Regions from separate parts of the Homo sapiens genome. Here region 2 is linked to region 1. A link means that fine-mapping ties the variant in region 1 to the plasma level of a protein whose gene starts in the linked region. Region 1 holds a variant in brackets. A gene starts in the other region. All regions are shown on their forward strands.

The links. A credible set is the group of variants that fine-mapping cannot tell apart. PIP is the chance, under the fine-mapping model, that this variant and not a neighbour inherited with it causes the effect. Protein levels are from antibody-based Olink assays in UK Biobank. Linkage for the fine-mapping came from a reference panel and not from the study's own genotypes, which makes the PIPs less certain.
Region 2: PI16 starts here. The variant in region 1 is the best candidate, but not a certain one, in a credible set for the plasma level of the PI16 protein (UK Biobank, PIP 0.55).

Annotation. Positions count from the first base shown.
Region 1 is chr1:219,099,563-219,104,949 of GRCh38, forward strand. All of the region lies in intron 3 of LYPLAL1-DT (LYPLAL1 divergent transcript), which reads right to left. Among named protein-coding and RNA genes, the nearest start is that of LYPLAL1-DT, 72 kb to the right of the region's middle. The variant A/G (reference allele first, on the strand shown) is at 3,016.
Region 2 is chr6:36,952,181-36,957,567 of GRCh38, forward strand. It overlaps PI16 (peptidase inhibitor 16), which reads left to right and starts at 2,558. Exons shown (of 7, transcript NM_153370.3): 1 at 2,558-2,751. The coding sequence starts at 2,581.

The DNA of each region.
Region 1 (5,387 bases):
CTGTGTGCAGTAACATATATAAACCGCAGAAGCCTATGTTCAATAAAAATCATCAAGACTCAGAAGACTACATACAATATAATGCTGAAAACAACCCAATAGTCCCATAGATAGTTGTTTGGGTAAACATAGAAATTGACTCTTATGGTCTTAAAGCTTGAACCTTACATCTGTTCGATCTGAGTTCCTTCCTCAGTAAATGACCTTCAAGCCTCTCAAAGTACCAAAGAACTGAAGCTCACCAGAGCACCACATCCAGACAATGAGATGCCAGATCCTTCATTCATTATGATTGCTTGCTTGCCCCTCCCTAGTTCTTGTTTCTTGCATATTGTTGCATTTGTTCCCTACTATATAAACCCATAGTTTTAGTCAGTCAGGCAGATGGATTTGAGACTGAGCTCCCATCTCGTCAGCGGCAGCATCCAATTAAAGCGTTCTTCCTTGTCAATAATTGGCATCTCAGTGAATGGCTTTCTGTGTGGCAAGCGACAGGACCTAAACCGAACCTCTGCTTTTTCAGTAACAATATTATGTGTGTAGAAATGTAAAACAAGCTCAACTAAATATACAGCTACTTTAGGCATACATGCATTTGTGATAACAATACTATTTAAAGAGGATGAAGAGGCTGGGCATGGTGGCCCATGTTTATAATCCCAGCACTTTGGGAGGCCAAGGCAGGAGGATTGCTTGAGGCCAAGAGTGGAGCCCAGCCTGGGCAACAGTGTGAGATCCTGTTTCTACATTTTGTTTTTTAATTAGCTGGTTGTGGTGGTGTGTGCCTATAGTCCCAGCTACTCCAGAGGCTGAGGCTGGAGGATCACTTGAGTCCAGGAGTTGGGGGTTAAAGTGAGCTATGGTCATGTTTCTGCAGTTTGGCTTGGGTGACAGAGCAAGACCCTGTCTGTAAAAAAAAAAAATAAGTCAAAAGGAAGAAGAAACAAAAAATTCACAGGGAATGTGGGGAAAGTGCAGAGACTGTGAAAGAGATCCACAATGTGTAGATACAATTTTAAAGCCCTCCTTGGTATTTTTCTAAATTAAGAAGTATTATCCAGTAAAAAATGCTTTTTAATCAAGCAATATTCTTTTATAATATATTCTTCTCGTGCACTCCAATGTCCTCTTCTCTCTCCTCTTCTGGCTACAGTTGCACCAGGAAGCTGAGGCAGAGACAAGGTGAACATAACTGTAAATGGTAAAAAAAAGAATAAAAAAAGAAATAAATACTTCAAAGAGAGTTAGCAAATAAACCATCCCACATTTGGTTGACTTTTGGTGAATTATCCTAGAACTAGGGAAGATCAAAAGCAGAGATTACAGTCTGGAGGCTATTGCAACGTTCCAGGTAAGAGATGATGGTGGCCTGGAGTAGAATAAAATGGTAAATGTGGAGGAAAATGAAAAGATTCAAGAGGCATTTTGTAATTGTTGTCATGTCTGTCCTTAGAGTCACAGCAGTTGCAGTAATAATGCTAGAAACATTTTAAGCATAGTGATCATCCAATCCAACTGACAGTGTCTCCGGTTGCCAACAAAGAGGTGAACGGGCACTAGCATCACTCCATCCCAGGGTAATTACATCATTTGGTCATCAGCTACTGTATTCATCTCCTCAAAGGTGTTGTGATCTCAAAGCTTATTCTATATGTTTTCTTTATTTCATTTAACTGACTTTGCTGACCCTTGATCCAGTTCTTATTTCTCCACTGAATTCTGAAACTCTTGAATCTTCTCCTTTGCAGTCAGCCAACTCTCTTAATCCTCTACTATTGTTCAGAATGTTCCCTTTATTTTAACAGCTTTATTAAGGTGTAATTGTTATGCACAAAAAGCTGCACATAATTAATATATAAAATTTGATAGGTTTTAACATGGGGTGTTTTTCCATTTATTTGGTTTTCTTTAATTTCTTTCAGCATTTTTTTGTAGTTTTCAATGTACAGGTCTTTCACTTCTTCATTTAAGTTTATGCCTAAGTATTTTATTATTCTTGATGCTATCATAAATAGAATTATAAACCAAAAGTAAAAATTTAAGCCCCCCAACTGACTGAATGGACCCTTTCTCTTGGCCAAGAAGATTCCAAAAAAAATCTGAAAAACTAGTTCAGGCCATGATGGGAAGGGGGTTCAGTTATGCCTCATTATACTCTCCTTCCTTTGGAATTCAGGCACAAATGACCAGCATTAACATTAAAACAGAGATCTTTACACTGACAACCTGATTATTTGTAGCAATATGATACCAAATTCAATCCGATCCTAGCAGAGCATCACATGACAAATAGCAGGCCCTAAAGGAAATTGAGTATTTAATCTCAAAATATACTTATTTGACATATGTTGAAGTGGCCTGGCAAAGCTCTCTCGTGGGGGAAATTTACATTTTGTAGAGAACTGCAGGTCTCTTTCTGAGCCGGAGGAGATTAGTTGAGAATCTACCACCCTTAAAAGGACTGAATTAGAAAATATTTGCCATCTATTGCCTCTAAGGGTGGCTGCCTTTGAGACTTCATCTACATAATAAGAACCTTCATCTCCACAACCACTCATCTTAACCCAGACACTCCTTTCTATTGATTCCAGGTCTTTAAATAATGACTCTTTCAACCAATTGCCAATCAGAAAATCTTTGAATCCGCCTATGACCTGGAAGTCCCTGTTTTGAGTTCTTCCACCTTTCTGAACCAAAAAAAATGTATATCCTACAGGTATTGATTGATGTCTTATGTCTCCATGAAACATATACAATTAACCTGTAACCCAACCACCTTGGGCACATGTTTTCAGGACCTCTTGAGACTATGTCTTGGGCCTTGTTCACTGATATTTGGCTCAGAATAAATCTCTTTAGATATTTTACACAGTTTGGCTTTTTCATCAATATAATCATTTTCTTCATTTCCTTTTCAGAGAGTTTAATGTTGTTATATAGAAATGCAAATAATTTTTGTATGTTGTTTTTATTTCCTGTAACTCTTATACATTTAACTTGAACACCATCCAAATT[A/G]TTGGTGTATAACTGTTAATTGGAGTCTCTTGTGATCCTTTTTATTTTTATTTTTATTTATTTTATTTTATTTTTATTTTTTTTAATTTTTTATTTTTTTATTTTTATTTTTTATTATTATTATACTTTAAGTTTTAGGGTACATGTGCACAATGTGCAGGTTAGTTACATATGTATACATGTGCCATGCTGGTGTGCTGCACCCATTAACTCGTCATTTAGCATTAGGTATATCTCCTAATGCTATCCCTACCCTCTCCCCCCACCCCACAACAGTCCCCAGAGTGTGATGTTCCCCTTCCTGTGTCCATGTGTTCTCATTTTTCAATTCCCATCTATGAGTGAGAATATGCGGTGTTTGGTTTTTTGTCCTTGCAATAGTTTACTGAGAATGATGATTTCTAATTTCATCCATGTCCCTACAAAGGACATGAACTCATCATTTTTTACGGCTGCATAGTATTCCATGGTGTATATGTGCCACATTTTCTTAATCCAGTCTATCATTGTTGGACATTTGGGTTGGTTCCAAGTCTTTGCTATTGTGAGTAGTGCCGCAATAAACATACGTGTGCATGTGTCTTTATAGCAGCATGATTTATAGTCCTTTGGGTATATACCCAGTAATGGGATGGCTGGGTCAAATGGTATTTCTAGTTCTAGATCCCTGAGGAATCGCCACACTGACTTCCACAATGGTTGAACTAGTTTACAGTCCCACCAACAGTGTAAAAGTGTTCCTATTTCTCCACATCCTCTCTAGCACCTGTTGTTTCCTGACTTTGTAATGATTGCCATTCTAACTGGTGTGAGATGGTATCTCATTGTGGTTTTGATTTGCATTTCTCTGATGGCCAGTGATGATGAGCATTTTTTCATGTGTCTTTTGGCTGCATAAATGTCTTATTTTGAGAAGTGTCTGTTCATGTCCTTCGCCCACTTTTTGATGGGGTTGTTTGTTTTTTTCTTGTAAATTTGTTTGAGTTCATTGTAGATTCTGGATATTAGCCCTTTGTCAGATGAGTAGGTTGCAAAAATTTTCTCCCATTTTGTAGGTTGCCTGTTCACTCTGATGGTAGTTTCTTTTGCTGTGCAGAAGCTCTTTAGTTTAATTAGATCACATTTGTCAATTTTGGCTTTTGTTGCCATTGCTTTTGGTGTTTTAAACATGAAGTCCTTGCCCATGCCTATGTCCTGAATGGTAATGACTAGGTTTTCTTCTAGGGTTTTTATGGTTTTAGGTCTAACGTTTAAGTCTTTAATCCATCTTGAATTAATTTTTGTGTAAGGTGTAAGGAAGGGATCCAGTTTCAGCTTTCTACATATGGCTAGCCAGTTTTCCCAGCACCATTTATTAAATAGGGAATCCTTTCCCCATTGCTTGTTTTTCTCAGGTTTGTCAAAGATCAGATAGTTGTAGATATGCGGCGTTATTTCTGAGGGCTCTGTTCTGTTCCATTGATCTATATCTCTGTTTTGGTACCAGTACCATGCTGTTTTGGTTACTGTAGCCTTGTAGTATAGTTTGAAGTCAGGTAGCGTGATGCCTCCAGCTTTGTTCTTTTGGCTTAGGATTGACTTGGTGATGCGGGCTCTTTTTTGGTTCCATATGAACTTTAAAGTAGTTTTTTCCAATTCTTTGAAGAAAGTCATTGGTAGCTTGATGGGGATGGCATTGAATCTATAAATTACCTTGGGCAGTATGGCCATTTTCGTGATGTTGATTCTTCCTACCCATGAGCATGGAATGTTCTTCCATTTGTTTGTATCCTCTTCTATTTCATTGAGCAGTGGTTTGTAGTTCTCCTTGAAGAGGTCCTTCATGTCCCTTGTAAGCTGGATTCCTAAGTATTTTATTCTCTTTGAAGCAATTGTGAATGGGAGTTCACTCATGATTTGGCTCTCTGTTTGTCTGTTATTGGTGTATAAGAATGCTTGTGATTTTTGTACATTGATTTTGTATCCTGAAACTTTGCTGAAGTTGCTTATCAGCTTAAGGAGATTTTGGGCTGAGACAATGGGGTTTTCTAGATATACAATCATGTCATCTGCAAACAGGGACAATTTGACTTCCTCTTTTCCTAATTGAATACCCTTTATTTCCTTCTCCTGCCTAATTGCCCTGGCCAGAACTTCCAACACTATGTTGAATAGGAGTGGTGAGAGAGGGCATCCCTGTCTTGTGCCAGTTTTGAAAGGGAATGCTTCCAGTTTTTGTCCATTCAGTATGATATTGGCTGTGGGTTTTTCATAGATAGCCCTTATTATTTCAAGATACGTCCCATCAATACCTAATTTATTGAGAGTTTTTAGCATGAAGTGTTGTTGAATTTTGTCAAAGGCCTTGTCTGCATCTATTGAGATAATCATGT
Region 2 (5,387 bases), not on the chromosome of region 1:
ACGGGGTTTCACCATGTTGGCCAGGCTGGTCTCGAACTCTTGACCTCAAGTGATCCACCCACCTTGGCCTCTCAAAGTGCTGGGATTACAGGCATGAGCCACTACACTCTGCCCCCGAAAGTTCTTAATTTTAATGAAGTCCAATTTATTTTTGTTTTGTTGCCTATGCTTTTGGTGTCATATCCAAGAAATCCTTGCCACATCCAATGCCAAGAAGTCCCCCTTATATTTTCTTCTAAGAGTTTTGTAGTTTTAGCTTTTATGTTTAGGTATTTAATCCATTTTGGAGTTAATTTTTTAATATACTTACGGTAAAGATTCAACTTCATTATTTCGCATGTGGACATTCCAGTTTTCTAAGTCTTCTTTAAAAGACTTGCCTTTCCCTCGTTGAACGGTCTTGGTACCCTTGTCTAAAATCATTTGACCATATGTGTAAGAGTTTATTTCTGGGCTATTCTATTCCATTAGTCTAAATGTCTGTCTTTATACTAATACCACACTATTTTAATTATTGTAGATTTGTGGTTACATATTAAAATCAGAAACTGTAAGACTTCCAATTTTGTTCTTTTTCAAGATTGTTTTGACTATTTGGGGTCCTTTGAGATTCCATATAAATTTTAGGATGGATTTTTCTGTTTCTATAAAAATATTATGATTTGCATTTCAATAGGGATTGCATTGAATCTGTAGATTGCTTCAGGCAACATTGACACCTTAGCAATATCAAGTCTTCTAATCCATGAATATAGGATGACTTTCCATTTATTTGTGTCTTCTTTCACTTTGTTTGTCAACACTTGTGATTTTCAGCGTACAAGTCTTTTGCTTCCTTGGTTAAGTTTATTGCTAAGGGCCAGGCGCAGTGGCTCACACCTGTAATCCCAGCACTTTGGGAGACCGAGGCGGGCGGATCACGAGGTCAAGAGATCAAGACCATTTGGCCAACATGGTGAAACCCCATCTCTACTAAAAATACAAAAATTTGCCGGGCATGGTAGCAGCTATGGTGGGCAGCATGGTGGGCAAGTAGTCCCAGCTACTTGGGAGGCTGAGGCAGGAGAATCACTTGAACCCAGGAGGCAGAGGTTGCAGTGAGCCAAGATCATGCCACTGCACTCCAGCCTGGGTGACAGAGCGAGACTCCATCTCAAAAAAAAAAAAAAAGTTTATTGGTAAGAATTTTATTCTTTTTATTCTTTTTCATTGCTTTTATAAATGAAATTGTTTTCTTAATTTCCTTTTTGGATTTTTCATTATTAGTGTATAGAAACAACTAATTTCTATGTGTTAATTTTGTATCCTGCAACTTTGCTGACTTTATTAATTCTAATAAGTGTGTGTGTGTGTGTATGTGTGTGTAATCCATCTTGGTTTTGTTTTTATTTTTACTTGGAGACTCAGGCAGGGACAGGTTTTCTTGTCATCTTCCAAAGCCTGTGGGTAGACTTTTTCTAGGTCCCTATTCATTGAAGAAGCAGGCTTCAAGGATCCCAGCTGTCCTCAAGAGTACTGGTTCCAGCTTCCTGCTTCATGAACCGGTCATGGCCCCTGCAAGGTCAAGGTCATTATAATGCCAGCACCTGACTGCTAAGGCTATTTCCCTTCCAATACCTTCCCCTCAGAGCTCCTGGTGCATCAGCTCATTCAACCTTCTGCTTTTCTGCTCTCTCTTGATTTAAGAAACAGACACATTATATTTCTACATAGTTAGAGCACAGGGGTCCCAGCATCCCACTTCCAAATGAGCATGTCAAGCACATGCATTCAGAGAGGATACCTGGAAGCCAAAATTTTGCCATAGTGAAAGGCCTTATTCCTGAATACAGCTAGAGTGGGGAAGACCTTGGCCTCTCCCCCCGCAGGCAAGAATGTTGCCTCCACAGGGGGCTGGTAGCCTGCTAAGGCCCAGGCCACATGAGTGGGTTGTCTACTGTTACTGAGGGCCTACTATGTGCCAGACACCATACTAGGTGCTTTACATACATTATATGTCATTGAATCTTCCCTCTAGTCCTGTGAGATAGGTACTATTATTGTCACTGATTCACTTGAGAAAGCTGCCAAAACACAGATAGCAAGGGGCAGAACCAGGATTCTGATTTAGGTTGGCTCAGCCTTTTATCAAATACATCTGGTCTTCCTCTGTCCTTTCAAAAGCCTATAGCTTCCTCATCTTGCCCACTCCTCTGTGGGTAGGGTCTGTGGTTTCCTTTCTCTTATCTATCTTCAACACACAGTGGGTGTGACCTGGGTGCAACCAGTCACAGCTCTGCAGAGGTTACTGTGATTTTGCCCCTGAAGGATCTGTCCACAACTTAGGAACTCACACAGCTTTTGGCCTGAGCCCCCGTTACCAAGAGAAAGGAGGTTTTTGCCAAGGACTCCAAGGGGAGTGCACTTGATGCTGGTCGGGACCCAAAGCGCCCAGCCCTCCCTGAGACATTGTGTGAGTCGGGCTGGGCCTCAAACACGGCCCCCACTGCCCCACCCCAGCCAGGGTGGTGCTTGTGTGGGAAGGACTTTAAATCCAGCTGCCAGACCCCTGGACGGGAGAAGGAGAGACGGCTGGCCACCATGCACGGCTCCTGCAGTTTCCTGATGCTTCTGCTGCCGCTACTGCTACTGCTGGTGGCCACCACAGGCCCCGTTGGAGCCCTCACAGATGAGGAGAAACGTTTGATGGTGGAGCTGCACAACCTCTACCGGGCCCAGGTATCCCCGACGGCCTCAGACATGCTGCACATGGTAAGTGTGGCCACGGCCCTTGCTGGCTGGGATGGAAGGGGTGCTGGCCAGGGTCTGTCACCAGGCTCTCTTACCCTGCTCCTCATGCTGAAGCTATTTCAGAATTCCTCTCCTTTTTCTGGTCAGTGACAGAGTCCCCGAGTCCCTGACATGGTATTACATTACTTTAAATGGCAAAAACCACAATTACTTTTGCACCCGCCTAATAAAATTCACAGGCCCCTATAAGCAGCCTCATAATACAGATAAGGAAAGTGAGGCTCAGAGGGATTTGTTGGGGTCACACAGCTGGTAGAGCCAGACCCAAAGCCCTGGCTTCCCACTCCAATGAGCTTTCCCCAGCACTTCCTCAAATGCATGTGCCCTCAGTGGGGGAACCCGGGAAGTTCTTAACACCTTTGTGAAAACGGTCTTTCACATGCCTGCCAAGGAGAGGACAAGAGGAAGCAGGGCAGCAGGATGGGCGTGGGCACGTGGAGTAGGAGGCAGGTGCTAAGGAGGTGGGTGACAGCAGGATCCAGAAGCAGAGAGGGCTCTGGATCACACAGTCCAAATTCTGTCTCGGTCACCTACAAGACCTATGATTCGAGGCAAGTCCTGTAACCTTGCCGATCCCGTGTCTCATCTGTAAAAGGCGGTCAGAATTAGAGCTACGTATATACCAGTGTGGATTGAATCTCACAGATATCATACTGAATGGGGGAGGAAATAAAATCTCTAAAAAATACACAGTAGGATCTCTTTACATGAAGTCTGAAAACATGTAAAAATACTATTTATGTCCTGGTGAAACACGCAGATGTAGTAAACATTACATGTACATGCACACAGGAGACAGAAGCCAGATTTAGGGTTGGTTACTTCTGTCAGGAAGAGCTATTTATGGTAGGGTGAGAGGCGGGCTGTCTATATGCAGAATTAAAGGAGATAAAGTGAGAAATTCACCCACTTCCTGCCCTCCCTGAGGGCTGAACTAGCTTGTCCCCTCCAGCCACCCTCAGGTGACTGGGGAGGTTGCTGGGCAGTGTTCAGGGACCCCTGGAGCTGGTGCCTGAGAGAACAGATGCACCTTGGGGAACATAACAGTGAGCCTGGGGCCCCAAACCTAAGTTCTAACCTCAGCCTAATGTGATCTGGCTGAAGTAACTCTGGGTGGACCCCTTTCCCTTCAAAGGCCTCTGTTTCCAGATGGAAACATGGGGCTGGCGATCCCTGCCCTGGGCGTCAGACAGGATGACACGTAAGAAAGATCTAGGAAGAGCTCTGCACACACCCAGCACTGCCGTTCACAGCTGTGCCAGCCTGCACATCGAGGAAAGGTGGACAACAAACCAGGCGTCACAGATGCAGCTCTGCCAACAGCTCCCTGATTGAGGCCTGTGACTCATTGTTGGACTTCAGTTTCCCCACCTGTAGATCCCTGATGCCCTACAGTCTTGCTGGCTGAGACTGGGGGCCACACAGGCTGGGAGCTGCTTCTCAGACAGAGGTGCGCCTTGGAGTGGGGCAACATTCTGGGAGGCAGTTGGGATACTGAGGGGATATGCTGCTGCCTAATGGGGAGTGACATGAGGAGGAGGAGATGAGGCTGGGGCTGGGATGCCAGGAAACATTCAGGACAAGACTCAGGTTCAACCTCAGCAGTGGTGAGGGCAGGGACTCTGCAGCCAAATGGCCTGGGTTCAAATCTTAGCTTTGTTACTTATTAGCTTTGTGACCTTGGCCAAATTAAACTCTCTGTGCCTCAGTCTCCTCATCTGTAAAATGGGGATGATAACAGTGGGATAATTCCCTTGTAGCTACAGTGGTTGTAGGGTTAAGTGAGTGAATATGTGTAAAGCACTCAGAAGAATGCCTGGCACACAGTAAGTGCTCAGTAAGTGTCTGATTAACACAAAAGAGGGAATGGATCCAGGGTGAGGCAGGTGGGGGTTATCATGAACTCTTCCTTCTCTCTCAGCCTCCAGAGCTAATCAGCACCAGTTTTGCCACCCCGAAGGTTCAATTGTCCTTGAAATCTAACCCTTACCCCTACCCCCTTCTCTTTTCAGCACAATCCTGGTTCAGGTTTCTTTCATTCTTCCACACAAGGACTCCTAGGATAGCCTCTACCTGTTCCCCAGCTTCTGGCCTCTGCTGTCAGAATGAATAATCCAACACATGGGCCTGACCCTGCTCAAAATCCTTCAGTGGCTCCCATGGCTCCCTACTGCTTCAGGTTAAAGCTCCAGCTCCTGACTGAGAAGGTTCTGTGTGTTCTGGCCCCTGCCTATCTCTCCATCCTCCTCTCCCGCTTGCCCTTTATTCTTCTGTCACCTGAACAGCTTGTCTTTTCCCAGCCAAAATGTTTCCCAGCTTCATGCCTTTGCTGATGTGTACCTTCTGATTAGGATGCCTCTCCCCTCCAGCTGACTAATGCCTCATCTTTTAACACTTAGCTTGGTGTCTCCCTCTCCACCTTTGGCTGGGCTAGATGGCCCTCTTTGGTGCCTCTATAGTACTTGTGGCACATCTGTCATTTACCATGTGGTGGCCCAAATGACTTTTATGTCAATGGAAATTTGGGCTTCTTGGTTCCTGCTGTTGTCCCAGGGCTGACACAATGCCCAGGACTGTTGAATGAATGAATGAATGGA